2 separate regions of the Homo sapiens genome follow, and region 2 is linked to region 1. Evidence: fine-mapped QTL for protein levels in blood plasma. A gene starts in region 1. The other region holds a variant in brackets. All regions are shown on one strand. Distances are between the middles of the regions.

Region 1 (15,885 bases):
GAGCGTGCCCTTCCCGGGGTAGACGGCCACCCTCTTCCTTACAGACCCGGCCACAGAAGCAAGTGTGACATCCGGAGTTAAGAGGAGGACGTCCCCAGGTAGAGGGGAACATCTCTCTACTTTGGTACCTCTCCTCCATTATGCCCCCAAATCTGTTCATCAGTGAGGATGAGGATTCTAGGAGACTCCCATTTGTGGCTAAAGAGATCAAGATGCTTGCTCTCCTCAAGGGGTCTGAGGATGCCTGTTCCCCCACTCTATCCTCTGTAGCAGATGCTGTCGGGCCCCTGCCTGTGTCCTCTTGCCTGTGTCATTTCCACCTGCACACATCATCAGCACCTCCTTTTCTGTGGGTGGGAGGCTGAGGCCTTTCTCTTGTCACTAGAGCCCTCTATGCCACACACAGCAGGCAGCCCTCTACTGATAACCAATTGGAGTTGGTGTGTAACTATGCGGGCTCCTTTGCCCTTCAGATGTGTGTTTTATGCTAGATCTGACTCTCCCCGTTGGGATTAGGCTCTTGTTGTGCACAGCAGCTGCTTGGTTAAGTACTCTTTATTAGAGGCCTTCCCTGCCCTGTCCCACTCCCCCACCTTTTTTCCAGTGTTCATATAAGACGCAAATCCCTGACTCAGAGTCAGTTTCTCTAGAGGAATCCAAATTAAAGCATCCCCCATTTTCCACTTCCTACTCCATGAGGCGCATCCTTGCCCTATCCTCACCCTCTCCTCTCCATCCACAGACACTTCAGGACACCCATCCCCTGACATGCTCATCTCTGACTCTCATCCCCCCTGGCCCTAATTCTACCAACTCTCATTGCCCCCTACCCTCATCTCTGCAGCCCCCCTCTCCCCTGATACTCCTCCCACTGACCTTCTTCTCTGACTCTCCTCCCCCACAACCTTCATTTACCCCCATCCTCATCCCCCTGACCCTAATGCCCCCGACTCTCATAGTCCCCTGCCCTCATCCCTGCAACCCTCATCTCCCCCTACCTTTATCCCGACCCTCCTCTCTGCTGACACTTCCCCCACCTTCCTCCCACCAACTCCGCTCCCCACTGACCCTCATCCTTCCTGATCCTCCTTTCACCTGACCTTCCTCCTCCCTGATCCTCCTCCCCCGACCCTCCTTTCCCCTGTCCCTCCTGTCCCCACCCTTCTTTCCCCTGCCCCTCCTCCCCACTGACCCTCCTTTCCCCTGCCCCTCCTCCCCACCCCCGACCCTCCTTTCCCCTGCCCCTCCTCTCTCCTGCCCCTCCTCTCCATTGCCATCCTTTATGTCACTTCCAGTCCCCCACCTCACATTCAGAAGCAGGCCACATTGGGTTCCTGGGGAGCAAAAGGGGAAGGTCAGATATAAGACTTGCACCTCCAGGTCTGTTTGGGCACTAAGTGCTGGTGCCACTCAACCCCAGGCCCCACAGGTACCTGATGGAGGGCATGGAGGGTAGTCTGTTGAGGAGAGATCTGCTGGTGAGGCAGAGCCCTGTGGTGGGCGATCTGGTGCTGAGGTCCCCAGACTTAGTGGAGATGGATTCTGGGCCAGCAGAGGAGTCCCTGGCATTGCTGGGAGACGCGGTCACTGTCTGGGACCCCATGGTCCTCCTGGGTCCCTGGCTGGTGGTGCTGGTAGCAGTGAAGCTGTAGCCTGTCTTGGAGGCAGGTCTGGTGGAGGCTAAGAGCCTAGGCAAGGTGATGAGTCCTGGGGTGAACACCATCACACCAGTGGTAAAAGGGGCATCAGGGCCTGAGGTAGGGGCTTGGCCAGTTGTGACAGTTCCACTCTTGAGGATGTTGTCCAGATGTGTGAAAGGAATGTTCCTCTCAGTTTGGGGAGCTGAAAGACAGAAAGGGAGGAACGTTAGATTGACTTGGGTGCCTCAGTGCTGGGAGCAGATCCTGGCAACCCACACAGTTGCCTGGAAGCCTGGATGGGGGCCTGTCCTCTTCTCTTCTCCTTGACCTTGGGCCTAGGATTCTGGCTGCTGAGTGATCAGATGTGTATTTGTTCAGAAAGTGATATCAGGAGGAAGGAAGTAGGTGTACTGAAGAAGGGAGAGACTACCACAATTTCTTTTTCCCTCCCGTGTCAGGCCACCTGTTCCCTCTCCATCCCCATCTCTCTCTTTTCACTTTCCAGGCCCTCTTCGTTCCTATGGGCCAAAAAGATTTCCATAAAATAATGTCAAACAAGAACTTTTCCAGCTATTCCATAATTGACAAGTAGGGTCCAGAGATGAGGACAAGGAGGCATCAAGGTCCTCAAATTCCAAAGAAAGCTGCAGTCAGTTGGGGTCAGACACTTTCCTTGGGGGCTCACTAAGAGATATCAAACTGGTCCTGCTACACTCACCCATCAACCCAGCCCTTTTCCATCCCATTTTCTAGAAGAAGCCTGGGTTTTGGACAGTGGATGAGGAGGGAGGTGGAGGAGCTGTGAGGCATCAACCTAGCAGTGAGTGATGGTTTTATCTCAGCATGGAATGTGAAAATTGGAGACAGAGGCTGCTACATCCCACTACTGTGCATGGAAAGGGCAATTTCCTAAGGGCCAAATTGTCATCATGGAAGGTGGCTGAGCTTGAGCCATTTTTCTGGAGAAGGGGACCCAGAACAAGCAGCATTGGTGAGGATGGGAATAGAGGAAGACGCTCACCTGGAGTCAGAGCTCCCACAACATCATACTCAGCAGTGGGGACACCCCCAAAGAACTCTTCAGAGAATTCACACATCAGTGCCTTGGGAGAGTATATGGACACTCAGAGAGGATCTCAAAGGGCTGGCAGACAAGCAATGACATCCAACAGGGAAAGCATTCCTACAACACTCAGTTAAGCCACATAACCATCTCCCCCTCCCTCATTCCTGCATCAACACACTAAGAGGGCCAAGAAGAGGTAACCAAGAGGAACCCCGCCTTCTTCACAGCCCAAGATGCAGGATGGGGAGCTGGGCAGCCAGTAACTTTCCTTCTCCACTTTAGATGCCTTGGACCATAAAACCTGGTCTTCAGGGGGCAGTGGAATATCCTATACTGCTAGATGACCAGAGTTTGTAGTTGGAATAAGGATTTTTTTTATTTCCTAATAACAGAAAAGGTCTGCAAAGTTGAAATCTTCACAAATTGTCCTTAAGAGGTGGAAAGTGAGATGTGACATAACATGATTAGAGGAAATGATGAGAAAAAATAAAAGCATATAATGTTTAATGTTTCTATCCCTAAATATTAAGACTTCAGTGAACCAGTTTCGACTTCCCTGGGTCTCACTCAGAACTGGAGAGGGGAGCAATGAGATTTGGCTCCACATTTTAGCGACAGCATTTTCCCTAGTTCAGACCCTGTGGAAGATGGAGATGCAATTGGGTTAGGTGAACGGGGAAGGATGGATAGTAAATTGCATAATAACTGGCTGCCTTTTCCGGGGTCTTTAGCTGAGTCCTTTCCCTTTTCTATCTAATAAATGTGGAAGGACCCCACGGCTTGGTGCTCCACTCTTTTTTGCCTACACTCAAGGGAGAGCTTTTAGATCTTGATATTTTTAAGAACTTTATTGAGATATAACTCACATCCCATTTATAGTATAAAGCTCAGTGGTTCTTTATTATGCTTACAAAGTTATGCAACCATCATCACAGTGAGTTTCAGAACACCTTCATCATCTCCAAAAGAAACCCCTTACTGTTTATCTATGATTCTGTATCCCCTTTTCCTTCCCCCAGCCCTAAGCAACCACTAATCTACTTTCTGTGTCTGTAGATTTCTCTAATTCCCTGGACTTTAAACACTATCTTTATAGAGATACTTTCAAATACATACCCCAGCTCTGACCTCTCACCCTAGCTCCAGGCAGGTATATCACTGCTGGCTGCATTTCCCCACTTGGGGTTCTAGGAGGTATCTTAAACTTAACATGACAAAAGAGAGCTCTTGATTTTTCTCCTCCAAATTAGCTCCTCTTTCAGATTTACCCTACGCTATCAATGGTACCATCATCCACCTGCTGATCAAATAGAAAACCTTGGATCATCCATGATTCCTCCTTTTGGCTCACCCCTCAACTGAGCAAATCCTGTCCTACCTTCAAAACATATGAGCTGAACAGAAAGTCTGAAAAACATAGATTTGAGCCCATTCACATCTCTCTGCCACTAGTGCCTACATTGTACTCCAGGCCACTGTTGTTTCCAGCCAGATGCCCACAATGGCCTCTCTACCCGTGTTCATACCATTCACAATCCATCCTCAACAAGTGGCCACTACATTCTTAAAAACAAGTCATGACAGCTCTCTGAGCTCTCTAGTAGCTTCCTCTTATACCTAAATTCCAACTTATGGTCTTCAGGGCTGCTTGACTCTCCAACCTCCTCATTCATTGCCTCACACTCCATATAGAGTGACTAAATAAGCCTTATACAAGCCAAGCTCCTTCTGACCTCAGGACCTTTGCATATTCAGCTCTTGCGACAAAGTGCTCTTCAAAGCACCCAGATTTCAACAGGGCTGGAAAATGCTCACCATTCAGGGCTCTGCTTGGTGTTGTCTGCTAAGGGAGGTGTTCTCTGACCCCCAGTACTTCAGTAGCTCCCCCACCACCGAGTCGCTTACTAGTTCATGAACACCTCTAGTTATTTGCAATTATTTGAAACAGTTCCTAGTTTCTTATGAACACCTCTTGTTTTCTGCAATTATTTGTCTGGATAATAAGTGTGCCTGTCATCTCCCATAGTGCAGGATTGTGAGTGTTTTTGCTCACTGTCTCCTTAGAGCCTAGAATAGTGCCTGCCCCATAATAGGGGCTCAATGAATTATGTTGAAGCAATGAGTGAATAAAACACAGCACAGACAGTGCCAAGTTTGAACCTTATCTCAGCCACCTGCTAGCTCTGGGACCCCGGACAAGCTCAGAGTCACACTGGGTTTTCAGGTCTCATTATCTTCATCTGTAAAATGGTGACAATAGTGCCACGAATAGTGCCATAAAGGCACTCTGAAAACACTACAGTGCAACATGACCACTGATGGATTATTATCCTTATTATCTCTGATGTTAGTGGAGTGTGGGGCAGGAGGGACTCCCTCCACCCGTCCCAGAGCCACTGCAGCCTGCTCACCTGGAGACACATCCAGCTGGAAGCCCATCAAGGGGTACAGGATCCCAGAGGTGTTGCGCATGCACCAGTATCGGCCTGAGTCCTGGAGCTTGAGGGCCACCATGGTGATGTTGACCACCTTGGCCTGGGCATCGTCCTGCAGCAAGTAGCGGGGCCCTTTCACCCAGACTCGGGCAAAGCCAGGCTCACACTTCTTCTTCCTGATTTTGCACCAAACCTTGCCCTCCACGCGGTTTTTGTAGCCCTTATAGGAGCACTGCACAGACAGAGTCTCCCCTTCAAGGAGCCTCACTTTTGTGTATACACTGTCAGCAGAGGGGCCTGTGGAGACAATACTTATTGAATAAGGTCTGGCAAGAGGAGAGGAAGAAGACATCATGAAAGTTGAAGATCATGGTGAAGGGTAGAGTGGATATTGTCCTGCTGTCACAGAACCCACAGATTGAGGGGGAAATACAGCCCCGCCTTCAGGGAGCTTGCCCCAATCTGAAGGGAGGTGAATGGGCCCTGAAAACAGCTAGCTTCCAGTATTACAGTGGAGACACAACCCCCGCTCTCAGGGAGCTTTCAGTCTGATGGAGGAGGCAGGTATATCCCTCAGTGAGTCCCCAGTCTAATGGAGGAAACGCAGCATTTACACTCGGAGCTCCATCAGACACAGCCCCTTTCCTCATGGTATTTTCTAGTCTGATGGGAAAGTGACAAGCTCTGTCTTCAGGGATTCCCAGGGAATTCATTTTTGTTTTGTTTTGTTTTGTTTTGTTTTGTTTTTGAGACGGAGTCTCGCTCTGTTGCCCAGGCTGGAGTGCAGTGGCACGATCTCAGCTCACTGTAACCTCCGCCTCCTGGGTTCAAACTATTCTCCTGCCTCAGCCTCCTGAGTAGCTGGGACTACAGGTGCCTGCCACCACGTCCGGCTAATTTTTTGTATTTTTAGTAGAGACGGGATTTCACCATGTTAGCCAGGATGGTCTCAATCTCTTGACTTCGTGATCCACCTGCCTCGGCCTCCCAAAGTGCTGGGATTGCAGGCGTGAGCCACTGTGCCCGGCATCCCAGGGAATTCTTGTGGGAAAAACCCAGGTCATGCCCTCAGTGAGACAGATGCAGAGACACAAACACAGGTCATTAAGTTGTGAAATTTCAGTGCCCAACTAACTAGGTAGATAAGAAAATCTAGTATTTGAAAATATGATTAACAGTTATTTATTTCACAAATAGGTTCACTTAGTCCTCTTTAAATAATAACTCTCCTTAGTTCATTCCATCTGGTGTTTAGTTTTAAAATATTCTAGTTACATAAAACCCATAGATCAAGCCTGTCTAAATATACATGTAAACAAACTCCCAATGGAGTGTGAACCACAGGATTCTACAATTATTCACTTTCCACCTGCAATATCTTTCTCTCTATGCTGAGGAGTAAGATGTGGTCCAAGCCTTCATAATCCACAGTCTGGTAGAGACAGAGCAGAACTGGGGTGTGCAGGGTGACTCAGGGGACAGAGAGAGGGAGAAAGCTGCCTTGGGCTCCCTCCACCCCTCTGCCTGCCTTAAGCTCAGCTGACTCTTCTGATAATTTCACCCCAGAGTCTTCCAAAAAAACCACATATAAAAAGACTCTCCCCCATAGTAGAGAACAGAGAGCACACATTTTGGAGTCAAAATAAACAAGGGTTGAAACCCTGTTTCTACCACTTAGTGGTGTGATTAGGTCACCTGTTTGATACAGAAATATCAAAACAGACACTTGACTGATACAGAAATATCTCTGTTTCTTTATCAGTCAAGTGAGAATAGCACCACACCCCTCACAGGTTGCTGTGAGAATTCTGCCCCAGGTCAGTGCTTTGCACACAGTGCATGCTCAACTCATGCTTCCTTTTCCCACATGCTGGGGCCTCCCAGTTCCCCCAATGGAACCCAGAGCTGTGACAGTCAAGGGCCCAGAATCCAGGACATCTGTCCCACCAGAATCCAGGATATCCGTCCCAAGTCCCAGCCAGCAGCCACTAGAGCTGAGGCTCTGTGTGAAGCAGCACCCTCTCTAAGCATCCCTCTGTCCCTTGCAAACTAAACAGAATGATCCAACTTCATTATTTGGTGGATGAGCCCAGGATTTCTTAGCACAAGAGAGACCCCTTTCTGCCCTGGCAGTGGGAAGCTGTTTCTCTACCCTCTGGGAGGTGCAGAGTTGGGTGACCTTGGGATGGGTCTCCAGGGCAATGTCTTCATGTGTGCCTACACCTCCCACCCCTCTCACAGGCAGTGGTGAGTTTTGCCAACCCCCACCATGCCCAGAACTGAACAGGAAGTGGTAACTTGGTTGCCATGGCAGCGAGAGGGGCAGGAATGGGTGAGGTTCCTCAAGGAGCATTGGTATCTGTGAGGTGGGAAAGGCATTCACACACTGGTCCCTTCAGGACAGAGGCAGGGACAGGATGTGGCATCAGCATTTCAAGAAAAATGTTCAAATTCAGTTCAAAACACACATGATGCAATGATTGCTGTCATAACTAAGCAGGGCTTCCTGACAGAGGCCAAGCAGAGAAAGCTATTTGTGTGAGGAAATTGAGGGCTCTGCTTTAAAGCCTGAGGAAGCCTAGCAGATAAAGGAGCCAATGCAGAGAGGGTCCAGAGCTTTATCTTGGCTTGGGAGGCCTGGGTTAGCTTCGCCTGGGGCCTGATATTAGGGTAAAGAGCTAAGTCAGCCCTAATCTCCTCCTTCCCCAACCCACAAAACACTAAACAAGAAAACTGCTGGTAAGGAGGGTAAGAAAAAGGCCCTGAGCTCCTGCCTCTGTACCCACTCCCTCCTCCACAAGTCAGCCCCTTCTCCCCTCACCTGAGACGCAACCCTGTGGCCACAGCAGCAGCAGCAGCAGGAAGGCTGGGGCCATGGTTCCATCCAGCTGGGCAGTGTCAGGCCTGGAGATCCAAGGTGAGGGCCCACCCGACACAGGATGTGCCACCTGGGCCTGCCAGGGAAGGACCCGGGGTTCTAAAAGTGAAGCTGCCCATTTAGGGAAGTGAGGCAGTGTGGGACCCACTGCCCCCAGCCAACCGCAGGGATTCATTGAGCCTATTATGAGGGCGGTGCTGGCAGCTGTTTCCGCCCTTTTCCTCGGAACTTCAGGCAGGTGTGGCTGCTCCACCCAGTCTGGGGCCCCAAGCCGGGAGGACTCACAGTCAGAGGGCTCCCCGCCCTCCCCAACCTCCCCCAGAAACTGGTCCCTAGGATCCAGCAAGGGGGCTGGGGTGAGGCTTCTGGAACGTCAGGTATAGACCTTCCTGGAATCTTCTGGGCTCAGAGACCCAGGGGTGCGGGCTCTTAGGCTGAGATGGAGCATCTCAGACCCTAGTTTCTTACATATATACATTCACAGGGAAGTTCTTATAAACTCTCATTCATTCATTCATTGCAGATTCTTTCTGTTCCTTCCTCTCTCTCTCTCCCAGGCTCCTGGCTGCTCAGAACAGTCACTTGTGTTCACTGTTGCAAATAACCTCTTACAGGCTCACTTGAAATCTTACTTTTGTCAAGCGGGAAAAATGCAAATTGTTAAGACTCAGGGCATAAATTTTGGGTTGAGGGAGGGGTTCCTGTACTCTCACACACAGGTGTGCATGCACATGCACTCACACTCACAGTCTCACTTTGTCTTTTATTCACTTTCACACACACACACACACGCCCATGCACACAGTCTCACACACACCCCAGCAGCCTCTCCTTTTCCCTATCCATACGTCTCCTCTCTCTGTCCCTCTCCCTGCCTCTCCTCCTGTCGACTCTACTCACCATCAGCTCCCTCTAGACTCCTAGTCCCTCGTGCAGGCTTCCTACAGCCTCCGCAGTACTTCCCCTCACCCACCTCATCTCAAGACCCCCTTCCTCCCCTGCCTCCAGCCTACGTCAGCACGCAGGCAAGTGCCCTCCACTTCCTCCTGCTCAATGCTATCTCGCCTGTACAGCCACCAGCTCCAGTGGAAATGACCCAGCACTAGGCCCAAGACCACACCCTTCACTTACCCCAAGGCCTAGAATCAGAAGCATCAATTTTTGATGTCCGGTACCTGTGTCATCTGCTCCTTCAGTGTGTGGGGACCCAGCTGGACTCCCGTGATTATGTATGCTCCCCCTACTCACTAGTGCCATGTTTCTACTCCTTAGATGGGACTGTCAAAAGGTAAACTGAGGCACAATAAAATTTTAAACAGATTATTTCAGCAAACAACAATTCATGAATCAGGCAGCTCCAAACAGAAGAGGTTGAGGAGCTCCACTGGGGGAATGCAAGGGGAAGACTCCTACAGGACAAGTAAACTGAAGAAAATATTTAATTAGTTATAGTTATATAGTTCCCTTATTTGGCCTATCCTGTTGGAAAGACCCTAGTTAATTATATAAGTTTCTTTTGATTGGTTGAGCTTAAGTTCTATTTTTCCTTAATATACACATTTACAAGAAATAGCTCGTGTTAAGTTTCACTGATATTTGCAAATCAAGCAAAGTTGAGGTCACTTATGAGGCCTAACTGTTTTTTTAATTTTTGCTCAGGGACTCTTCAGGCCTGGTCTCCATTTTCATTAATTTTAACAGGACTCAGAGCAAAAAGTCCTCAAGCTTGCATGGCCACAATCTTAAATTGACCTTGAAGCCCCAAGCTCCAAGCAAAGAAGTCTATCTCGGCTGACCCTAAGCTTTTGTAGTCTCTCAACTCATTCACTCACTCATTAATTCATTCATTCATTTGTTCATTCCCACAACCTCATTGCTATGCATGGGGCTAGGTAGGCACTGGGGGCGTAGGAATGAGACACGATTGTCACTTGAGACCTCTCAGCTCACAGACGTGTTTTGTTTTCCTTATTCACCCTTCCTTTTTCAATGTTTCTCACCCAGTCCTCAGAACTTCCTGAGCTCCCTGAGTTCAGGGGCCATCTCCCCTCCCCAGCACACACAGTAAGTTCCTCCATCCCTTCCCCCATCAGAACAGTAAGTTGCTTCAGGAGTGGGGGATTTATCTCTTGTGGGGACTTTATGCGCTTGGAATCCATGATTCTATGAAACTGATACAGTGCGCCCAGCACTGAGCCAATCATCGTCTAAAGTGTGACCCTTGGGATCACTGTGCTGATGAGGGTAGAAAGAATCAAACATTCATTCGCTGATCGAGGAAGTATGCACTGGATTCAATCTTTCTTAAGAGAAATTTGGAAGCATTGGTCAAAATCATTAAAAATACGTATACATTAGACTTTTACATCTATCATTTGATTTAATACAGCAGTGTATTTTGTCTTTATATTTATTTTTCCCATTTAAAAATTAAGGCCTAATTTACATACAGTACTATTCACCCTTTTCAGTGACGAGTTCTGGGAGTTCTAGAGACTTGTATCCAATGCCGTAATGGAGACAGAGAAGAGTGCCATCATCCCGAAAAGCTTTCCTCTGCTCCTTGTTAGTCATCCCTTCAGTCCCAGACAAACACTGATCTGGTGGGGTTTTTTCCTGTCATTTCTCTCTTTCCAGAATGGAAAAGTGAAGCACTTTATGTTGATTTATTCTGGTGAAGTCCAATATATAATTTTTATGAATCAATTTTTATGTCATATCTAATAAATCTTTGCTTAACCCAAGGTCACAATGACTTTTTTCAACAATTCTGTGAGCTATAATTCACATAATATAAAACTGACCCATCTAAAGCATACAATTCAGTGGTTTTCAATATATTCACTGAGTTGTACAACTAACACCAATTTTGCAGGATTTCCCCACCCAAAGAAACCCCATGCCCGTTAGCAGGCACTCCCTGGATCCGTTTACTGCAGACTTGGTGGCTTAAAACAGTATTAAGTTATTGTCTCGCCATTCTGAAGGCAGAAGTCTGAAGTCAGTTCACACTGTATTGAGATGAAGATGTCGACAGGGCTGCAGTCTCTCCAGAGACACTAGGGAAAAATTTGTTCCTTGCCTTTCCAGCTTCAGGTAGCTGCCAGCATTCTTTGGTTTGGGGCTGTTTTACTCCAATCTTCAAGGCCAGCATCTTCAGTCTCCCTCTGCTCCATCTTCCCATCACTTTCTCCTCTTTGTGTTCAAATCCCACTCTGACTCTCTTACATAAGGATACATGTGATTGCATTTAGTTCCCATCTACGTAATCCAGGATAATCTCACCATCTCAAGATGTTTAACTCACTCATATCAGCAAAGATCATTTTTTTTTTGTTTTTTGCCATATAAGGGTAACAATCACAGGTTCCAGGGATTAGGACACAGATATCTTTTAAGAGACCATTTATCAGCTTACCACAGTCCCCATTCCTACAGTCCCAGGCAACCACTAATATTTTTGTCTTTCTAGACAAAAATATCTTCAATCAAAAATGCCTTTATCAATTCTGGATATGTCATAAAAACATAATTGAACAATATGTGTTCCTTGTGACTGGATTCTTTCATTTGGCATGTTTTCCAGGTTTGTCCATGTTGTAGCTGTACTTGTGCTATACGTTGTATTAATACATCATTCCTTTTAAAGGCTGAATAATATTCCACTGAATGGATATATATGTTTACCATTTATCAGTTGACAAATATTTTATTTGTTTCCACTGTTCAACTATTATAAGCAGTGTTACTATGACTATTCATGTACAAGTTTTTGTGTGGACATACGTTTTCATTTCTCTTGAGTACATAACCAATAGTAGAACTACTGGGTCATATGGCAACTCTATGTTTAACATTTTCAGGAACTACCAATAGTTTTCCAAAGTGGCTGCAAATTTTACACCCTCTCCAGCAATGTATGAGTTCTCATTTCTCTACAATCTCTCCAATACTTGTATTGGCTTTCTGTTTACAGCCATCCAGTGAATGTACTTAAGTTTTGAATTGTAGTTACCTAATGACTAATGATATTGAGCATCTTCATCTTGAGCATGCACAATTTGCTCATTTGTATACCCTTGGAAAAATATTTATTCAATTGTGTTGTTTGTCTTTTACAGCATTTGAACAATGTTGTGCCACATTTTTCTGGCTTCAATTGTTTCAGATAAGAAATTCACTACAATTAGAATTGGTATTCCTTTATAGATAATTATTTCTCTCTGGCCATTTTTACGATATTTTCTTTGTCTTTACTTCTCAGAAGGCTATCTATGCTGTGTCTTGGTGTGTATTTCTTTGGGCTTATTATATTTGGGATAAAATCAGATTCTTGTATTTGTAACTTTAGGTCTTTGGGCAGATTTGATTACTTTAGACGTTTCTTTGAATACATTTTCAGTCTCACATTTTTTCTCCTTTCCTTCTGGGACTCTGATGATGCAAAGGTTAGCTCTTATGTTAATGTCCCGCAGATAGCTGACGTTCTGGTCATTTATTTTCAGTCTGTTTTCTCTCTGATCAGACTGAGTAAATTTTCTCAGTCTGCCTTCCAGTTAACTAATTACATCCTCTGTCATCTCCACTCTCCTACGGAGTCCACGTAGTCAGCTTTTAATTTTGGTTATTGTCGTTTTTAGTTCCCACATATTCTATTGTCATTCTGTTCCCAGAAGAAGAAAAAAGAGTAAATGGAGCAGAAGAACTATTAATACTTGAAAAAATGGTACCGAGGATTTTTCAGAATTAGACAAATATCTAAGACATCAAATTGAATGTATTCAGAGAGTTCCAAATAGAATGGATACTTAAATAGCCCATATTAAGCATACTATAATAAAAATTCAAAGAGAAAATTATAAAAATGTTCCAGAGATAAAATAGGTCAGTAAAGATGAATAACCATCAGACTGTTATCAGACATTTCCATAGCAACACTGGGAAGGTAAGAAAACAATGAAATATGTTCAAAATTTTGAAGAAGTATATGTCTTTTACATGTTAACTTATGACATAAAATTTGCCACCCACTTGAAAATTGTGGTTAAGGGAATTACGACAATTTTGAGGCCAAGGATGTTAAGATAAAATATTTAAAAGTTATAACTAAATGCTAGCTCTTAGCATCTGATTGAGGAAGACCTATTTTTGTTTAGTCCACTTTTATCCCACTACCCATGTTCTTTAAGTGAAGCTCAGTATTTCCATACTGTAAGTGAACACGTCCCAATCTGCTGCAGTTGCATAAGTTCAGTAAATCGAGAAAAGATTGGGTTCAGCCACATATGACTGAAAACCAAACAGCAGTGGCTTCGACACACAACTGTTTATTTTTAGGTATCATTTTAATTATGAAAATTCCCAAGCATGCACAAAAGTATCTCACAAAAAAGAGATAATCGGCTGGGCACGGTGGCTCATGCCTGTAATCCCTGCACTTTGGGAGGCTGAGGCAGGTGGATCACCTGAGGTCAGGAGTTTGAGACCAGCCTGACCAACATGATGAAACCCCATCTCTACTAAAAATACAAAAGGTTAGCTGGGCGTGGTCGTGGGTGCCTGTAATCCCAGGTACTCCAGAGGCTGAAGCAGGAGAATCACTTGAACCTGGGAGGCGGAGGTTGCAATGAGCCACGATCGCACCACTGCTCTCCAGCCTGGGTAACAAGAGCAAAACTCAGACTCGAAAAAAATTTTTTTAAAAAGATAATCATACTTCTAGCCCCCATGTAGCATCACTCAGCTACATTTACTCTTGCCTTCCATTTTTTTTTATTGGCAATACTATTCCATAGGTTGTGCTGTGTACTTCACATAGACTCACAGAAAATAATCTCTAGTGTCTAGATTCGTGTTTCGGGCAACACAAGCTGACAGCATTACTTAGACATCTGAGATCGTAAAACTCAGCTGATGCCACCTGGGTATAAGTCCTAAAGGAAATCTCACCTGATTCTACCAGAGAACATGATGGACAATATTCCTCACAGCATTGTTTGCAATATGAAGAAGTGGAGGCAAAACAGCACATGCACCCTGGGTTCAGAATGATACACTGTGGGATATGTACACAATGGAATAAGCACTGAAAAGAAGTGGGCTCTGTATATGTACCCGGGAAGGAGCAAAACGAATATATGAAAAATGTCTATCACAATTTCTTATATGTAAGTTAAAATACAGTCACAGAAAAAAAAGCTGCAGGCTTTACAAGAATATATTCAAATTTAAGGTTACATATCACATGCATTAGAGTGGTTGCCTTGGAGGGGAAGGCAAGTGGAAATAGGGAATGAGGATTAAAAAAATAAAGAAAGCAAAAGTTGTGCCTCTCACAGATAGGTGATGGTCATGTGGAAGGAGCTGAGATATACATGAAGAGACTTCTGTTCGATGCCTATATTAGTCCCTTTTCATACTGCTATGAAGAAATACCTGATGCTGGGTAATTTATAAAGAAAAAGAGGTTTGATGGACTCACAGTTCCACATAGCTAGGTAGGCCTCACAATCATGGCAGAAGGTGAAGAAGGAGCAAAGGCACATCTTACATGGTGGCAGAGAGCATGTACAGGGGAACTGGCCTTTATAAAACCATCAGATCTTATGAGACTTAATCATTATCAGGAGAAAAGGAAGGGAAAACTTGCCTCCATGATTCAATTACTTCCCACCAGGTCCCTCCCAACACATGGGGATTATGAGAGCTACAATTCAAGATGAGACTTGGGTGGGGACACAACCAAACCATATCAATGCCCCTCCCCAGAAAGAGCAAAAGAAAATGGTACTCTCTCTCTCTCTCTTTTTTTTTTTTTTTTTTTTGGAGACGGAGTTTTGCTCTTTTTGCCCATGCTGGAGTGCAATGGCGTGATCTCAGCTCACCACAACCTCTGCCTCCCAGGTTCAAGCGATTCTCCTGCCTCAGCCTCCCAAGTAGCTGGGATTACAGGCATGTGCCAGCACGCCCAGCTAATTTTGTATTTTTAGTACAGATGGGGTTTCTCCATGTTGGTCTGGCTGGTCTCGAAATCCCGACCTCAGGTGATCCACCCACCGTGGCCTCCCAAAGTGCTGGGATTACAGGCATGAACCACTGCAGCCGGCCAGAAAATGGTACTTTCTTTATGGTGGCCTTTTTCAGGGCTGGCATTCAGCTGCTATGCAGTGGTACCCCAAATTGGTTGTTCATGGTGGACCCCCATTTTGAGTAGTCAATCCCAGTCTCGCTAGATGTTACCTGGTTGGAAAATGACTGTGCCTTTTCTTGCTTCACAGATGTGTGCTCCTCTTCTGTTCCCCAAAACATTTATCTTTCACCCACCATCAAATATTGTTAGTTCAACTTGATTTTCTCTTTTAGGCTATGAATCTCCTCACACGTTAAACAAACAGAATTTTGACCCCTGATGATGAGATTCCATTGAATGTTCTGGGTCCTGTTTTAGGCTGCTGAATCCACTGCTCTTGTCATTTAAGGCATCTGATTTTTTCTTTTACTTCTAGGACTTCCTCAGTTTCCAGTCTGCTGATTACAGCCTTTCTTAGTTTCAATTTTATTATTTATTTTTAAGTCATTTCTTTCTCATTTAGGGTGGGAGGGGAGGAGGGTGAGGGGATACATCTGCTTTCTTGCTTAGTTGCCTCTGACACATTTCAGTTCAGAGGTTGAATTTAATCAAGCACAAGAGGAAATTGATAGGACTCTCGGGTAGACCACTAACAAACAGGGAAAATGTGAGGCATCCTGGAGACCTGCTGAGGTGGGGCTGAGAGAACCACGGAGTGCTGGAGAGGAGCCCGGGCACAGCTGAAGATGCTGAGCTGAGCGTTGACCCGGATGCAGAAACCCCCACCCCAGGTCTTT
Region 2 (15,885 bases), 110 kb after region 1:
GAAAAGTTATGGCTTTGCAGTTTACCTGGCTTTGTCTTCTTGTGCGAATGGGAGCTGCACTCATTTGAGCTTCCTACATCTGGTACATAAACTGAACTTCAGAGGCCGTATGTGATGATGTAGTGGCTGAGAATTTTCCGGAGGTTTGAAAAGTCATTAAACCACAAATACAGATCATCATAAACCAAGCAATATAAGCAAAAAACAAAAATCCTCATCGTGGCATATTGTAGAGAAATTGTAGAATACAAAGCAAAGAGGAAGCAGCCAATCATTTATGAAGAAATTTAAATAGCAGACTTGTCAACTGAAACAACACAAGCCAGAAGGTGGTGAAATCATATCACCAAAATGCTTAGGAAAAATCACTGTTAAACTAAAATTGTGTACCTGACAAAACTCTGAATAGTGAGAGTTGTATTAGGGTTAGGTTCATCTATAAAGAACAGAAAAACTCCAAATAACAGGGCTTAAAACTGCTTCAAGTAAAAATCCAGAGGTGTGTTGTCTAAGAACGAATGGGGTCCATGCTCCATGAAGTTCTCAGGGCCTCAGGTTTCCTCCAGCTCAAGATGTGGTTCTTTTTTTTTTTTTTTCCAGCTTTTCCAGTTTTATTTAAACACAAAACATGAACTGTGTACTCATTGTCTTCGCTGCACAGCTTGGCATTGGGGTTGGTGACTCTGATGGCCAGCTGAGCAGCTCTTTCCACAATGGCTTTGTGGTCCTTGGAGGAAACATTGTGAGCGATCTCAGCACAGTAAGATTTGCTGCGCATCAGCAGTACTTCCAGCTCCTTGACGTTGTGGACCAGGAAATTCCAGAAGCCACTTGGCAGCATGTGCTTTGTTTTTTTGTTGCCCCATAACCAACGTTGGGCATCAAGATCTGGCCCTTGAACCTTCTACGAACCCTGTTGTCAGTACCTCCGGGTTTCCGCCAGTTAGGCTTAATTTGACGTATGGGTCAGACTGGTGCCATATGAACTTCTTGGTTCGCTTTTTGATGATCTTGGGCTTCACAAGGGGCCTGAGGGCAGCCGTGATGCCGAGGAAGAGATGGCTGCCACCTCCATAGGCAGCACCGAGGAAGAGAGAGGGGCAAGATGTGGTTCTTCTACCACCAAGGCAATGTTCACAATTTAAATACGTCTTTTCTTTTAGGAAAAACAGTGGTCCTAGAAGATGAAAGTAATTTTTTTCTGGTAAAATAAAAATTTGGCCTATGTCAGCAATGTGACATGTTTCATGAAATGCTATTCATCTGAAGAATCCACGTGTCTGGAAGCCATGCCTCAAGTCTAGAATGACCAAGGCTTAAATTTACATCCAGTGGTGGTGGGAGTGGGACCAGGGCCTCTTCTCTCTTTTTCCTTTAGACTGTAGGACATCTGAAAGAATATCAAAGCAGTTGTCTACTAGTCTTCCCAGGCTTGGAGACACTGCTTCAGTCACCATCAGTTACTTCTATCATTCCAAAGTGTGCACTAAGAATTCCCCTCTATATGCTCCTAATTGTTTTGCTCCATATTTCACAGCTGCCCAAGCAAGTCATGCTCAGAGACCATTTGATTTCAGGAGCTTCTACTGCTCCCGGGACTGAGGACTGACTGCCCAGGGCTTTCCAGAGCCCCCACCACCAAGTCCATTCTGAGTTAAGGGTTAGGAATACTCTGAGCCATTGTTGTGATTGGTCTTCTCAGAGAGATCTCTGGACTGTCACCAGGCACCCTGAGGACACAGGAGAGAGTGACCAGAGTATTGATCACTGGTCATAGGAAGACGGATTTCCTCTTATTGTCCTTGTTCATGGACCCCTGGGCTGAAAGAAAGGAACAGAGACAGAGCAGGAAAGAGGAAGATCAGGAAGCAGGAACAGAGTCAGAGGAAAATTGCAGGCTTGATGGGAAGGGGCAGGCTTGGGGGGCTCTAGAGTTATTGATTTTTCAGCTTGATCAACTTTTACTTGTTAGGATGGAGTGACAATTTTCAAGCTCCTTACTTGCCAGACTGGGAGCTGGAAATCCTATTGTTTTTTACATGCATTTAACTTTAATCAAGTTACCATAACACCTCACTGACTCCAAAATAAGTTTCTATCTCAGCATGGCATTCTTTCTCCACGGACTGACCCACCCACCACTCAACCTTATCACTTCTTATGCTTTTCTAAGAAAATAGCATGGGACCTACAAAAGAGTAAAAAACTGTCAAGATTTTGAAGAATGCTCTATCCATTCCAGCCTTGCAGCCTCAAACATGCAAAAGTCAGCCACACGTGTTTGTTCTGTTGTGTGATTTAACCCTACATGTAGAAATGGAAATGGAAGAGAATATGACATGAGAAAACCAAAGGACATAGCAGTATTATATGTTCCTAAATGAAGCTGAGTTTATGTGTGTGTGTGCAGGAATGTGCCTTCACGTATAGCTCACAGGTATGCATGTGCATTTGTGTACCTATGTGTGTGCGTGTATGTGGGTTAGCATGCATGTGTATATGTGAGTGTGTCTGAGTATTCTTACCCCCAATGCTCCAAACATAACATTGATTAAAGTCCACAGTGAGTGAGCTGAGTTTGTGGGGTCCTCTGTAAAACAGAAGGAAAAATCCATTTTCAACGAGAGAGGGATGTTTGTGAGCTCCCCAAGAACACGCTGGTGGTCCTAGGGCAGCAGGATGGTAACCTCCAGGGTTCTTGACAACAACGGACCAGGGAAGCCAATAAAGGATCTGTCAGTGGTCTCCAGGGCCTGCAGGCAGTGCCTCTGGCAGGCCATGCTCTCTGGTCACTGGGAAGATGGACCCTTGAGAAGGTCACAGCCATCCTCTAGGCTCAGCTCCACCTTGGTGAGTGTCCCATAAGGTCAAGCCACCCTCACGGGATAGAATATGAGCTCTCCAAGCCAATTTCCAAGACCCTTGGGCTCTCCTTTTCTCAGGTACCTCCAGTCCCAGGAGTGGTGGGGGGAAGCAGCAGACCCCAGTATTCTGGCCTGGGAGTCACATAGCCTCTAGAGAGCTCACCAGAGCAGAGTAGTTTAGCAAAAGTCAACTTCCCATTCCCTTCAGGATCAGTTTGCCTATTGAGAAATGTTTCTGGGAAACCTATTTACCAAGTGGAATGGTTTCATACAAAATACTACGGGTATAGCTCTTCTAAAGATTTTTTCAATCCCTTAGGTATCTTTTTCTATTGGATATAATTTTAAGGAGTGCCCACAAATACATTTTGAACTAGTTTTTACTTATTTTTCTACTTACACTAAGTACTTATCCAACTTTTAGTATAACATATGCAAGTTATCAGACTTCATTAACCCTTGTTGAGTGGTCTAGCCTTTTTTGGGGTTAAAAAAATTATTTTCTGGGCCAGGTACAGTGAGTCATACCTGTATCCCAGCACTTTGGGAGGCCGAGGCAGGAGGATCACTTGAGCTCAGGAATTTGAGGCCAGCCTGGGCAACATAGGGAGACTCCATCTTTACAAAAAAAAAAATTAAAAATTAGTCAAGCAAGGTGACACATGCCTGTAGTCCCAGCTACTCAGGAGGCTGAGGTGGGAGGATCAGCTGAACCCAGAAAGTCAAGGCTGCAGTGAACTGTGATTGTGCCACTGCACTCCAGCCTGGGCAACAAAGCAAGACCCTGTCTCAAAAAATATATATTATTTTCTGTATGACATGGCTGTATTAAAAATAAATGAATAAAATGAGGAAAGAAATATATAGATTCATTTACACTTCTACCGTAGTTTTCATGACACCTAAATCACAGTGCCATTGCTGTGGAGTCCCTTGCTTGCATTTATAATCCAACTCGGCCTCTTATGAGCTGCCTGAGTTGAGTGATTTACAAAGCTTCTCTAAGTCTCCATTTCTCAGTTCTAAGTGTTTAGTGGCTCCCTCATTGGGTGTTTTGAAGATTAAATGAACTAACCCTTTCAAAGCACTTACAGCAGAGCCTGGTACACACTAAATAAATACTCAACTAATTCCAATTTAGGAAATACTTATTACCTACTGCTATACATCAAGCACTGTTCTAGGACTGGGGATATGGGAATACAAGGTAAACGAAGACCCTGTCCTCATAGAGCTTCCATTCTCATGGAAGGATGGAGACAAAAAAGTGAGCCATACGTCACATGGGGACAACTGCTACAGAGGGAAAGGGTGGTGGAGAGAGAGAAGGTGCACAGGGTTTGTGCTACAGCAACTCAGATAAGCTGGAACTGCATTTCTGAGGATCCACTTACCTCTATGGCTCTGTGTTGGGTTTGCAAGAGAAACTTTCATGAGATTTGGAAGGCAGAGGTGAAGTGGCAGGTGCGATGTTCTGAAGGTTAGTGTAGGTGCTAGGGTCTCTCAGGTGCATTGTTGCTCAACTCACCTTGTTGACATGGGCAGCACCTGCCTGTAGCTCCTCCTACTCAGCCTCCCTGAGTCCTGCCCAGCACATGTGCAGCTTTGCAGCCAAGCAGCAGAAAAGACAGAAATGAAGGCAGAGAGGCAGAGCTACAAGGTGCTCACAAATACCTATTTTCTTCTCTTCCTAGATGCTCAGGTAGACCCATCTTAGCCCATGCAGTGAGGGCAGAAGTGATGGGCACTGTTCCAGACCTGGCCTATAAACACACCCATGTGCCATACTTTCTCTTTTCTCATCCACTCCTGGAGGCAAAGAACTCTGAAGACCTGGAGGTCAGCAGAGCCACAGGACAGAAAGCCTGGGCCCCTGAATGGTCCTGCGGAGTCACCATCCATTAGACGAGTAAGAAATCAACTTTTACTCTCTGAGATTTGGAACTATACTGTTAAAGGAGCTAAGATTATCTTAGTTAAGATAGGCAGAAATCAAATAAATAGAGAAATATATGTGTGAAAGAGAGAAGAGGGAGTGAAGAAGAAACAAAATAAAATACTGCCCTTGAAAAAAAAAAAAAGAACAAGATATACAAATCTGTAGAAAGACTAATCAAGAGACAAGTTTAAAAGTGCAAAGAGAAAATAAAGAGAACAGGCCAGGCACATTGGCTCACGCCTGTAATCCCAGCACTTTGGGAGGCCGAGGTGGGTGGATCACTTGAGGTCAGGAATTTGAGACCAGCCTGGCCAACATGGTGAAACCCTGTCGCTACTAAAAACACAAAAAATCAGCCAGGCCTGGTGATGCACGCCTGCAATCCCAGCTACTCAGGAGGCTGAGGTGGGAGAATTGCTTGAACCCAAGAGACAGGGGAGGTTACAGTGAGCCAAGATTGCGCCACTGCACTCCAGCCTAGGCAACAGAGTGAGACTCTGTCTCAAAAGAAAAAAAGAAAAGAAAAGAGAACAAATGAGAAATACCTGAACACCCAAAAGAGACTTTCACAATAACAATACTATGAATAATCATACACTAATAAATTGAATAACTTAAATAAAATGGATACATTTCTGGAAGATATAAAATATTAAAATTGGTGTTGAGATTAAAAGCTTGACTAGAGCAACAACAATTCAAAAATCAACATCCAGTCATATAACCATCTCAGCTGCTAGAGAGGTGAGGGGAGGGCAACTTCAGGCACAGAAGAATTTTCAAGGTATAGATATTTCTTAATTCATACAATTTATTCCAGGAAATAGAAAAGAGGGGAGAAGCTGCTCATATAATTTCTGTGGCTAGAACAATATTAATACCAAAACCACACAAGGACCAAATAAGAATAATGGGTTATCAGCCCATTTTTATTTATGATCATAGATTCTGTAATCTAAGATCATCGTTCAGATTCTCAGGGAAAGATGGCAGATGGAACATACACCTTTATTTCTGTTCGCTCCTAAAACCCACAAAAATGAACATAAAGAAATGCAGGAAACATAGGAACGAGGGAAACTAGAAGGTAAAATAGCAAGAAAATTTGGGGAGCTGAAAAAAATATATAAGTAAGTGGGAAATGACTTAGAAGTGAGAAAACAGAACCTTTCATCAGAGTTGAGGAAGGCAGAAGTCAAGTCTTATTTACACAACAGTATTGCCAAGATGGCTGAGAAAGTGGAGGTGGTTTAGGGGAGTCCGATTAAGAAGAAATGGTAGAAAGTTGTTTAAGAAGCAATGAGGAACCCAGATCCCCTTGCCACTTTCTGTAGATGAGCGACCTTGACCCACCTTGGCAGACAACTGGGAATGAATGCCTTAGAGAGGTTGCAAAGAAGGCTGGGTTTCTGTGTGTGGTAGGGAAGGGGTGGGCAATAGGTATAGGTGAGGATGGTGACAATGTCCTGAAAACCATGGGATTATGTGAAGAACATGTACCAGAAGCTGAGAAACACTCCAGCCCTCTTCTCCTATTTGGATTCCAGAAAGTTGGCAGCCAGATCTTCTTCCTCCAGACAAGAGATGGGGTGAGTCTTCCCTGGGGATCCTGAGCAGCCCAAGAGAGAAGGCTGAATGATATTGACAAGGCACTTCCTCAAGCAAATGGCCAAGGAGTCACCCTCCTGTGAAACTCCCAGGGCACCAGCCCCACTGTGGGCTCACAGCATCCAATTATCTTTAGAATTTTGTTACCCAGGCCTGAGAAAAAGCTCTCAAGTGAAAGAGAAGAAAGAAACTAAACAGAGAATAGTGAAGGCAACTGGGAAGAAACAGAGACCACCTAAGGAACCATAAATAAAAACAGAAAACTTTTTCTCCAAGGGCTGTTTCCAAAACAGAGGGAGGCAGAGAGAGAATGAGAACAACAGAGAAATGGGAGAGAAAAAAAAAGAAAAAGACAACTGATCCAGGAGGTGAATGCTTGAATAAAAGGAGTTCTAGAAAGACAGAACATAGAAAACAGAGAGGGGAAAATCATGCATGAACTAATTCAAGAAATTTTCCTGTGAATTTCTAGATCGAAAAGGCCACTCACTGTGCGGAGCAAAGGGATGGAAATAGACACACTCCAAGGCTCATCCCTGTGACATTCCAGGACACCGAGAACAAAAAGAAAACGCTGATAAAGTGAAGACAACAGATCACATATTGCCATAGTTATCATAATTGCTCCTGACTTTTCAACAACAATAGGAGCAAGAAGGTAACATAGCAATGCCTTCAAAATCCTGAGGACAAATTGTTTCCAACTCAGAATTTTTTATATCAGTCAAACTGTCATGGTAAAACAGGCATTTTTAAATATAAAAGTTGTCAAAATGTATTTTCCATTCCCCCTTTCTCCCGTAGTTACTCAAGGATGGGTTCCACCAGTACAAAGGAGTAAACAAAGATCCAAGAATCAAGAAAACGTTGTAGAGGAGACAAAGAGAAGCCCCAGAAACATGAGGAAGAGACAGCTGTGTACCAACTGGTGGAGGCAGTGCATCCATACAGGGCAAAAAAAGGCTGCAGGCATGACTTTTTAGGAAGATGCTCAACAAAATACTTGCTGAGAAAAAAAAAAACAAAACTTAGAAATGCTGGTTCCAAAACATGTGCTTTTGTTTGTTTGTTTTTTCTTGTTCTGACTTTTAATTCATTACACCACTGCTCTCCAAGAAAAGGCTATCAATTATTCCCTTCCAACAATGCATAAGAATGACTTTTTCCCTACTTCTCCAGGACAGAATATAATTATCATTTATTTTAATCTTTTTTGAACTGTTAAAAAGATAAACTGAGGCACAGTAAAATTTTAAAGAGTTTTGGTGAGTTTTTTTTAGCATGAACAATTTATGAACTGAGCAGCTCCGAACCAGAAATAGTTTGGGAGCTCCACTGAGGAACACAAAGAGGAGACTTTTATAAGACAGACACAGAAGTAAAGCAAAGTATTTAATTGGTTACTGTTATACAATTGCTTTTTTTGGTCTCTCAACTTGGAAAGCCCCTCGTTATCTAAGTTTGTATAAATAGTAACTTCTGATTGGTTGAGCTTAAGTTCTGCTTTTAAAAATATA[T/G]ATATAGATATAGATATATATAGGCATTCACAAGAAATAGCTCAAGTTAAGTTTGGTTATGTTTGCAAATCAAGCAAGGTTTAGGTCACTTACAAATCATAACTTCTTTTGTCCCCTCTGGGATTCTTCAGGTCTGGTCTCCATTTTAATTTACTTTAACAATCCCACCGCGTTGGGTCACCCTCTCAGCAAGCTAAGAAGAAGGTGGTAGCATTCCTCTCAGTTACCACTAGTGAAATAGTCACTGGAACAAAGAGTCATGTAATCTTATCCTCAACAGTTGTATTGGGATATAAGATTACATGGCATCATTACCTGCATCATGGGCTTCAGTGGTAGGGTTGTTGAGTTCTTCAAGTCAATTAATGATGATGGCAATCATTTGATGTGTGAGTGCCTTCTGGAAAGCTTTGAAATCCTTGAGAGGATAAGATATAGTAGGATGGTAAACAAAATGACTACAGAGAGAATAATAGCCAAGGATTTTTAAATTCCCTGGAGCACAGATTCCCAGGAGCCAATATTTCACCAATAAAATAAATCAGTGGAGGAGGCAACACCTGTCTGATAAAAGACATATTTGTTCCTTAAGATCCTTTAAATTGGGCTCAACAATTTCTAATTTATTAATATAGAAACAATATTTTTTTTTACAAATAAGAGCCTCCTTGTTAAGTTGCTAAGGTATCAAGGACTTCTATTTTGGAGTACTATTGAGGTTAAATTGTTTATTTCAGATAGTATTGCTTGAAGGGAATTCAAGGTAGCATTCTATAAAAACAAAAGAAAAAAAAAAGGTTAACATTAGGAACAAATTATGATCTTAGTCTTTAAGTCCAGAGAGCAGCCTGTCAAGATTTCTAAATTTGAGTTTGAAGCATTTTTAGATGATGGAATGAGGATGGCAATTGCAACCTGATGGATTTTCCTGGCTTGCAGTTTGAATGTCTCTGGAAATATCATCAGGTGTTCCAGTGAATTCTCCAAGTGACCCACACAGCAGCAGCATGAAAATTTTCCATACATGGTCTGTTGTAGTAATTTTTCTGAATTTAAAGTCATCCAATTTCAGCTGGCAGGGCTTCGGAAAAAAGCAGTTTTAGTTTCTAGTGAAACTAGAAAATGTTAGGATTCAATCCAATTTACAAGGACATAACAAAGACCAGAATTTGATGATGGGTGCTATAGTTTTCTATTGAAATACAATCTTTTTTATGGTCATTCCAAATTTTTCCAAAAATAATCATGGTTAACTCTTCTTTTTGTGCAAAATCAGTAGTCTCATTAAACTTGATCTGATTATTTACATAAGTGCAACAAGAAAAGTGATTCTATGTATGCATATTTTTAAAATACATCATTTTGTCAAAGTTTTGATAATATCCAAGGGGCTTTATTGACTTTGTATAAGTCAATCTTAGTTATTTGTTCATTTTATTGTTTGTTTTACTATTTGTTAACAAGGAATCTCAGATTAGACCTTTAAAAACCTCTCTAGGCTAGGAGGCCAAGTTAAGGACTTACCCAATTATGTCTTGTTATAAGAACAGATTCTTATTGAACCTATGCAAATACCTATATTGCCATGAAAATAAGAATATTCAATAAGTGCTTCCAAATTATGGGGTGATCAGGTAGGGAGGAAAAAAACGTTTTCTTTTTGTTTACAAAAGTATATTTTATCAAATTGTTTTAAGTTATAGAAAAAAGTTTTCCTAAATCTAGAAAGCAAGACATTAAAGAACCAGCAATGTTTCAAACGAAAAGTTATAAAAATTATAATTATTCTCATCAGTTAATTTAGTCTCACATAATTAATTTTTGTTTTGCTTGATCTTGGGTTAGCAGATTTATAAATACATTACTTTTCCATTAGAGGTCTGGAAATTCTTACCTAGCCTTATAGTATGAGCTTAAAATTATCAGAAACCTGTACTCATCAGCCTTTATCATGAATCTCTTACAATTCTGTGTCATGCAACTGACAAGGGAGTTTGGTTGCTTTGGTAACATACGACATTTTAACATAATAATTAAAATTATGGATGATAACATTATACTAGTACATATCAGATTTCTAGGAATTTGACATAATTTCTGGAACACTCATCAATAACAAACATAACTTAAAGAAGGTTTAGCATCACCCATTATTTGACATTGCTTCTCATGCAATTTAACATATCAAATAAGCCTCACTAGTTTAACATGTCTGTTTTTACAAGAAGAGAAGATAAATTCTTTTGAGATATTCCAGGGACCCTTTTGGACACTCCCAAAGTTGGTTTGAGGTCAAAAAGACCTATATGGCATGGCCAGTTCTAGGGGTAAGGTTGTGTCCATGCCAGTGTGTGGCATATGGCGATGTTCAGCTAGCATGAGTCTGAATTAATTACCACACATAGGAGCCAGAGTAAAGTGTTCCCAGGCCATCTACCCCCAACCAATGTCCCCACTTATTACTGCAACCTCTTACATCTTCTATAACATGCTCCAAAAAGTACGCACAACAGTAATCCCCCAAATGCCAAATACCACATTATTTCACGTTGAACAGTCTTGTTAGTGCATGAGTTCGTGTGCAGCACACGTGGTATTGTACACAAATTATATTTCCCTTCTACACTGTAATGAACATGGAGTGTGATGTAAATAACCATGGAATACTGAGTTAAAGCTAGAATTTTATCTAAATTAGACCTGAGTTTGTCGTGCCCCCAGGTGCCTGACAGAACTAAACAGTGAGAACCCCAGAACCCTTTCCAATGGGGAACGTCAGAGGCACCACAGCCACGGACCCTCCACTCTCTCCTGCACTCATTGCACCTTGACTGTCTTCCTTGGTGCTTGCAGACGTTTGTCATAGTGGATTTTTTTAATCAGATCGTGAATTTTGGGCAAACTTTCTACAGTTCGTGGGAGTAAATGTTTGAATGGTTTGAGTTCAGACCGTGAGACAGATCTGCATTTTCCATTCTGAAGAGGTTACACATGAGCTAGCAGATGGGATCGAATTTCAATTATACGGAAACAAGGTAGAAAAGAAGGGACCTCAGGCAAACGAGTAAAAGCAAGTTTGCAACTTAGAGTTTACAGTGGCTGGTCACAGGAGTATCTGACCCTGGAATTCCCAAACTTCTCCGCACCTTAGAATTACCTGAGGAATATTTTTAAAATGCCAAAGCCCAGGCCACACCCGGACCAATTAAATTAGGCGCACTGGGGTGGAATCCGGCATCTGCATTTCTGAAGCTCCCTAGATGATCCCAGCATGCAGAGGAGTCTGAGAATGACTAGTCTAATTTCATTTCCACAATATGCTTGTGAAGCGGTCGCCACTATCCCCTGTGATTCCCTTAAGGTTCCCCCCAGTGAATTTGTGGCATCAGGAGCCCAGCCCAGCACTCCTTCCACTGCACGTGCCGCTGTCCTGGAGGACAGGAAGCAGAGCCAGGGTGCTGCGTACGTGGCTCTTCAGAGGGCTCTTCAGTGTGCCTCCAAGGGCGCACAGCCGAGTTGAGCCGTCTGATTACGCTCCGGGGTGATGGACAGGCTGCCCCTGCCCCCTGCTGGCCAGAGGCTGCTATTGCAGCCAGCGTGCACACGCGTGCGCGCATCTTCAGCCACCTGCAGTTTCTCTGATTCTTCCCTGGTCTCCTCTCTGCAGTGTCGCCAGAACACCTTCGCACACTCTATTCTTTGTGGCCCTTCTGACTTTCTCTTTGCCGTGTGACAGGGGAGTCCTCCCTAACCAGCAGACAGTGAAGGTGGAGTCCACGTTTCTCGGCCTCCACGCATAGCGAGTCTCAGACCCCGCAAGGCTGCAGACAGTGCTGTGTAAGTGGGCCTTCAGTCCTGTGGGGAGCCCAGGTTGAATCCCCAGGAATAGAAGCTCCAGAGGAAGGTCCCCAATCAGTCCGTGGTCCCCAATCCTGAGAAGGGTTGCCTTTTCTGGGAGGAGCCTGGGTCTCATCGCTATGCGGGAACAGGGCTCTGGGAGGTGTCCAGGAAATGTGAGACCGGAAGTCGCCGTCAGGGAACGGAGTAGTCTGTGGCCCTGTTAGAGGAAACAGCCCTGGGGGGTCCCCAATTGCTTCTAGAATCTATTCTGTTTACTCTTCTAGGGAATACCTGTAACTTCTTTCCTTGGAACCAAGATTTAGCACATGAGAAGAATCTGGAAGAAGCTGAGCCCACAAGGGTCCCAGGAGGGCATTCTACCTGCCCACTGACCGTCTCAGCATGCTACACCCTCGAGGGAACTCAGGTTCCCTGTCTGTAAAATGCAGATTCTCTCCTATGAAATCTCTGAGGTGAATAGCTCTGGATAAACTTCAGTGGCCTTCTTTTAGATGTTTTTTGTTTTTGTTTTTTGTGGGTTTTTTTTCCCCTTGGGTCTTCCTGCCTGGGGCCCTCTGCCCTGGGTCTCCTGCAGAGGTTCCCACCAGCTCAGGAAAACACTCAAGGGTGAGTGTCTCAGAGCTCAATAGGCCTGAGTTCCTTTCCCAATACCTCCTACCACTCCCTGGACATACACACTAGCACATACATGCACACATGTGTGTGCAATCAAGCTAATCAGAGTGGGGCCTTGATTGAGTCAGAGCTCTTTGCACTCCTCCACATGTCCTCTACAGTGTAGCACTAATTCTGTGTCCTCCGGGGTCAGGGCCAGGTGCAGCAGGTGCAACCCACATTGCAGGTGAAACCTGTGAGTGAAGGAGCCTGGTGGGGGCTCTTGCTGTCATCTAGGTGGAAGGAGATGAAGATCAGGCAGAGGAGGCCGAAAAAGATCTGGAGGGTTTGGTGACAAAGGAAAAGATCTGGAGGGTCTGTGACAATGGATTTGAAAGTTCTTTGTCACTTTCAAGTTCTACACAAATTTGGGACAGACATCATATGATTCTAGCACCATTGTCTCAGATTTCATAGCTGTCAAAATTTTACAATATTCTACAAGAAGCAAATAAAATTACCTTGCATCTTTAAGTTTAGAATTTTTCTTTATATTTTTTTTCCATTTTGATCATTGTTAGGTTTGAGCCCCAGCCGAGGTCCAAGGGAGCAGGTGGACAGGAGGGCAGGGAGCTGGAAGAATACTCAAGAGACAGCAGGTAGATGAGACATGGCTTTATTCAGCAGCTCACTCACACTGTCGGTGCTGCATTTATGCACCTCACAAACAATAGTGGCTCCAAGCCAGGCGATGAGCCTCTCCATGTTATGGCTACATAGCTGTGTTTACATTATACACCAGACTGTGTGCCTGTGCTACAGTCCCGCTGAGTCATGCGGGATGTTTACCTCAGCCTATGCCTATGTGGCTGCAGCTCAGCCATGTTCCTTACAATCATCATAAGGGTTTAAAGCATTGTTTGGGGAAACCCAGGCAATCTTTTTTTTTTTTTTTAGACAAAATCTCACTCTGTCACCCAGGCTAGAGTGCAGTGGTACAATCTCAGCTCACTGCAACCTCTGCCTTGTGGGTTCAAGTGATTCTCCCGCCTCAGCCTCCCAAGTAGCTGGGATTACAGGCATGCACCACCATGCCCAGCTAATTTTTGTATTTTTAGTAGAGACGGGGTTTCACCATGTTGATCAGGCTGGTCTCGAACCTCTGACCTCTGGTGATCCACCCGCCTCGGCCTCCCAAAGTGCTGGGATTACAGGTGTGAGCCACTGCGCCCAGCCCCAGGTAATCATTTTTTGAGCTGAACTTGCCCTTTACTTTGACTCTGCAAGTGTGCTACACTTGTAGCTCCTTGGCAATGAGGTTGTGAAAACAAGTCCAACACACACAGGATAAGGATCCATCATTCTTGCATATTTAGCTTAATACCAGGTGAGGCTCTCCACTCCTCTCTCATGCTCATTTCCCTCTCCAGGCTGCCATCTGCTAAGGTATGCGGTCCCCTCTAGGCCCAGGTCACGGAGCCCGTGCTTCACCTGCTGGTGTCTCCCCTCACCCAGCCTCCAGACCCCACCAGGCCAGCCGTGACTGTCACCACCTGATCATCTTCACTCTTAGACACAAGAAAAAACTTCCAGGTTTTGCATTTCAGGAGTTATGACTTTGGGATCTCTATCCCTTGCTTAAGAAACCCATGAATTTATTTTTTATAATTTTTACCATGCCAGTGTGGGTGGGAGAGTAAAATTCCCCACCTCCCAAGGACATGTTTCAGGAAATAAGGAAACGATACCAGCTATTATCAGATCCTGACATTTCACTGGGGCCCTGGCCTGATCTTGGGGACAGGAGACAGGTGCACACCAGCCCAGGCCTTAAGTCCACTCTTCTTACTTCATTCAACTCCTCTCTTTCTTCTCCTCCAGCTCAGAGAATCTTTATTTGGTCTAGGGTGTTGAGGGTAAGACTAGAAGAGCTGTTTCGGTTCGCACACATATGGGAAAATTTCTACTCAATGTGTTGAGCTACAATTTACTTAAATACATATATCCATATATCAATCATCATTATCAAGATACAGAATGTTTGCATTACACCAGGAAGTTCTTTCACATGCCTTTACAATTAATACACTTCTCCCAAATGTCTTTCAACACGTGAACAGATAAACAGATAGCAGCACATCACACGATGGTATATTACTCAGCAGTAAAAAGGAATGGTCTATGATACACCAACAACATGAATTAATCTCCAAAACCTTAGACCAAGCAAAAGATGACACATATAAAATAATCTGCACTGTATGATTCCATGTATATGAAAATTTGTTACAGGCAAAGATCTTCTCCAGTGTTTTCGTTTGTTTGTTTTGTTTTGTTTTGTGTTTGTGTGTTTGTTTGTTTTGAGACGCTGTCTCGCACAGTCGCCCAGGCTGGAGTGCAATGGCGCAGCTCACTGCAACCTCTGCCTCCCGGGCTCATATGATACTCTTGCCTCAGCCTCCTGAGTAGCTGGGATTACAGGCGCACACCACCACACCGGGCTAATTTTTTGTATTTTTAGTAGAGATGGGGTTTCACTATGTTGGCCAGGCTGGTCTTGAACTTCTGACCTCATGATCCGCCCGCCTCAGCCTCTCAAAGTGCTGGGATTACAGGCTTGAGCCACCATGCTCGGCCATCCAGTGTTTTTATCTAAAAGTTTTCTAGTTTGAACTTTCACATTTATGACTATAATTCATTTAGAATTAAGTTTTCTGTATGGATAACTAGTTGTCCTAGCACCACTTGTTGAAAACACTTTGCTTTTGTCCGTTGAATTGCTTTGGTGGCTTTGTTAAAAATCAGTTGCCCGTATATGTGTGGGTCTATTTCTGGACTATCTAATCTGTTCTATTTATTTAACTGTCTGTCCTTACTACAGTAGCACACTGTCTTCATTACTGTAATTTTATAGTAAGTCCTGAAATCAGAGGTGAGTTATCCAGCTTTGTACTTCTTTTTCCCATTGTTTTGGCTACTCTGTGCCCTGTGCATGTAAGTTTCAGAGTCCTCTTGTCAATTTCAACAAAAATGCCTACTAGGTTTGTGTCTGTGACGTAACCTAGTATTGAGTTTATACATCAGTTTGACAAGAATTAACATCTTAACAATATTGAGTCTCCTAGTTCAGGAACATGGTATTTCTCTCCATTTATTTAGATTTTCTTTAATTTATCTTATCTTCCTGGTGTAATGCAAACATTCTATATCTTGATAATGATGATTGATACGTGGATATATGTATTTAAGTAAATTGTAGCTCAAAATTAAGTAGAAATTTTCTTATATGTGTGTGAACCGACAGAAACAGCTCTTCTAGTCTTACCCTTAACACCCTAGACTAAATAAAGATTTTAATTTAATTTATCTCATCAATATTTTATAGTTTTGAATGTATAGGTCTTGCACATATTTTGTTAAATTCATCCCTAAGCATTTAATGGTTTAGGATGTTGTTTTAGGTGTCATTTTAAAAGTTTTCATTTGTCTATGGTACACTGCA

Which allele goes with the higher level. Positions count from the first base shown, and alleles are read on the strand shown. Strength reflects both the effect of a copy and how common the allele is.
As copies of G replace T in region 2, the plasma level of the protein whose gene starts at base 8,158 in region 1 goes down (moderate association).

Evidence for each region. PIP is the posterior inclusion probability: the model's chance that the variant is causal. Protein levels are from antibody-based Olink assays in UK Biobank. Linkage for the fine-mapping came from a reference panel and not from the study's own genotypes, which makes the PIPs less certain.
Region 2: its variant is fine-mapped to the plasma level of the TREML2 protein (UK Biobank, PIP above 0.99).

The regions. Positions count from the first base shown.
Region 1 is chr6:41,192,992-41,208,876 of GRCh38, forward strand. TREML2 (triggering receptor expressed on myeloid cells like 2) reads right to left here and starts at 8,158. Exons shown (of 5, transcript NM_024807.4): 1 at 7,963-8,158; 2 at 5,118-5,438; 3 at 1,434-1,842. The coding sequence starts at 8,017. It also overlaps the pseudogene TREML3P. RefSeq lists enhancers at 8,377-8,446, 15,502-15,611.
Region 2 is chr6:41,307,526-41,323,410 of GRCh38, forward strand. It overlaps the pseudogene RPL32P15. Among named protein-coding and RNA genes, the nearest start is that of NCR2, 20 kb to the right of the region's middle. RefSeq lists a silencer at 11,397-11,466 and an enhancer at 11,675-12,216. The variant T/G (reference allele first, on the strand shown) is at 7,929.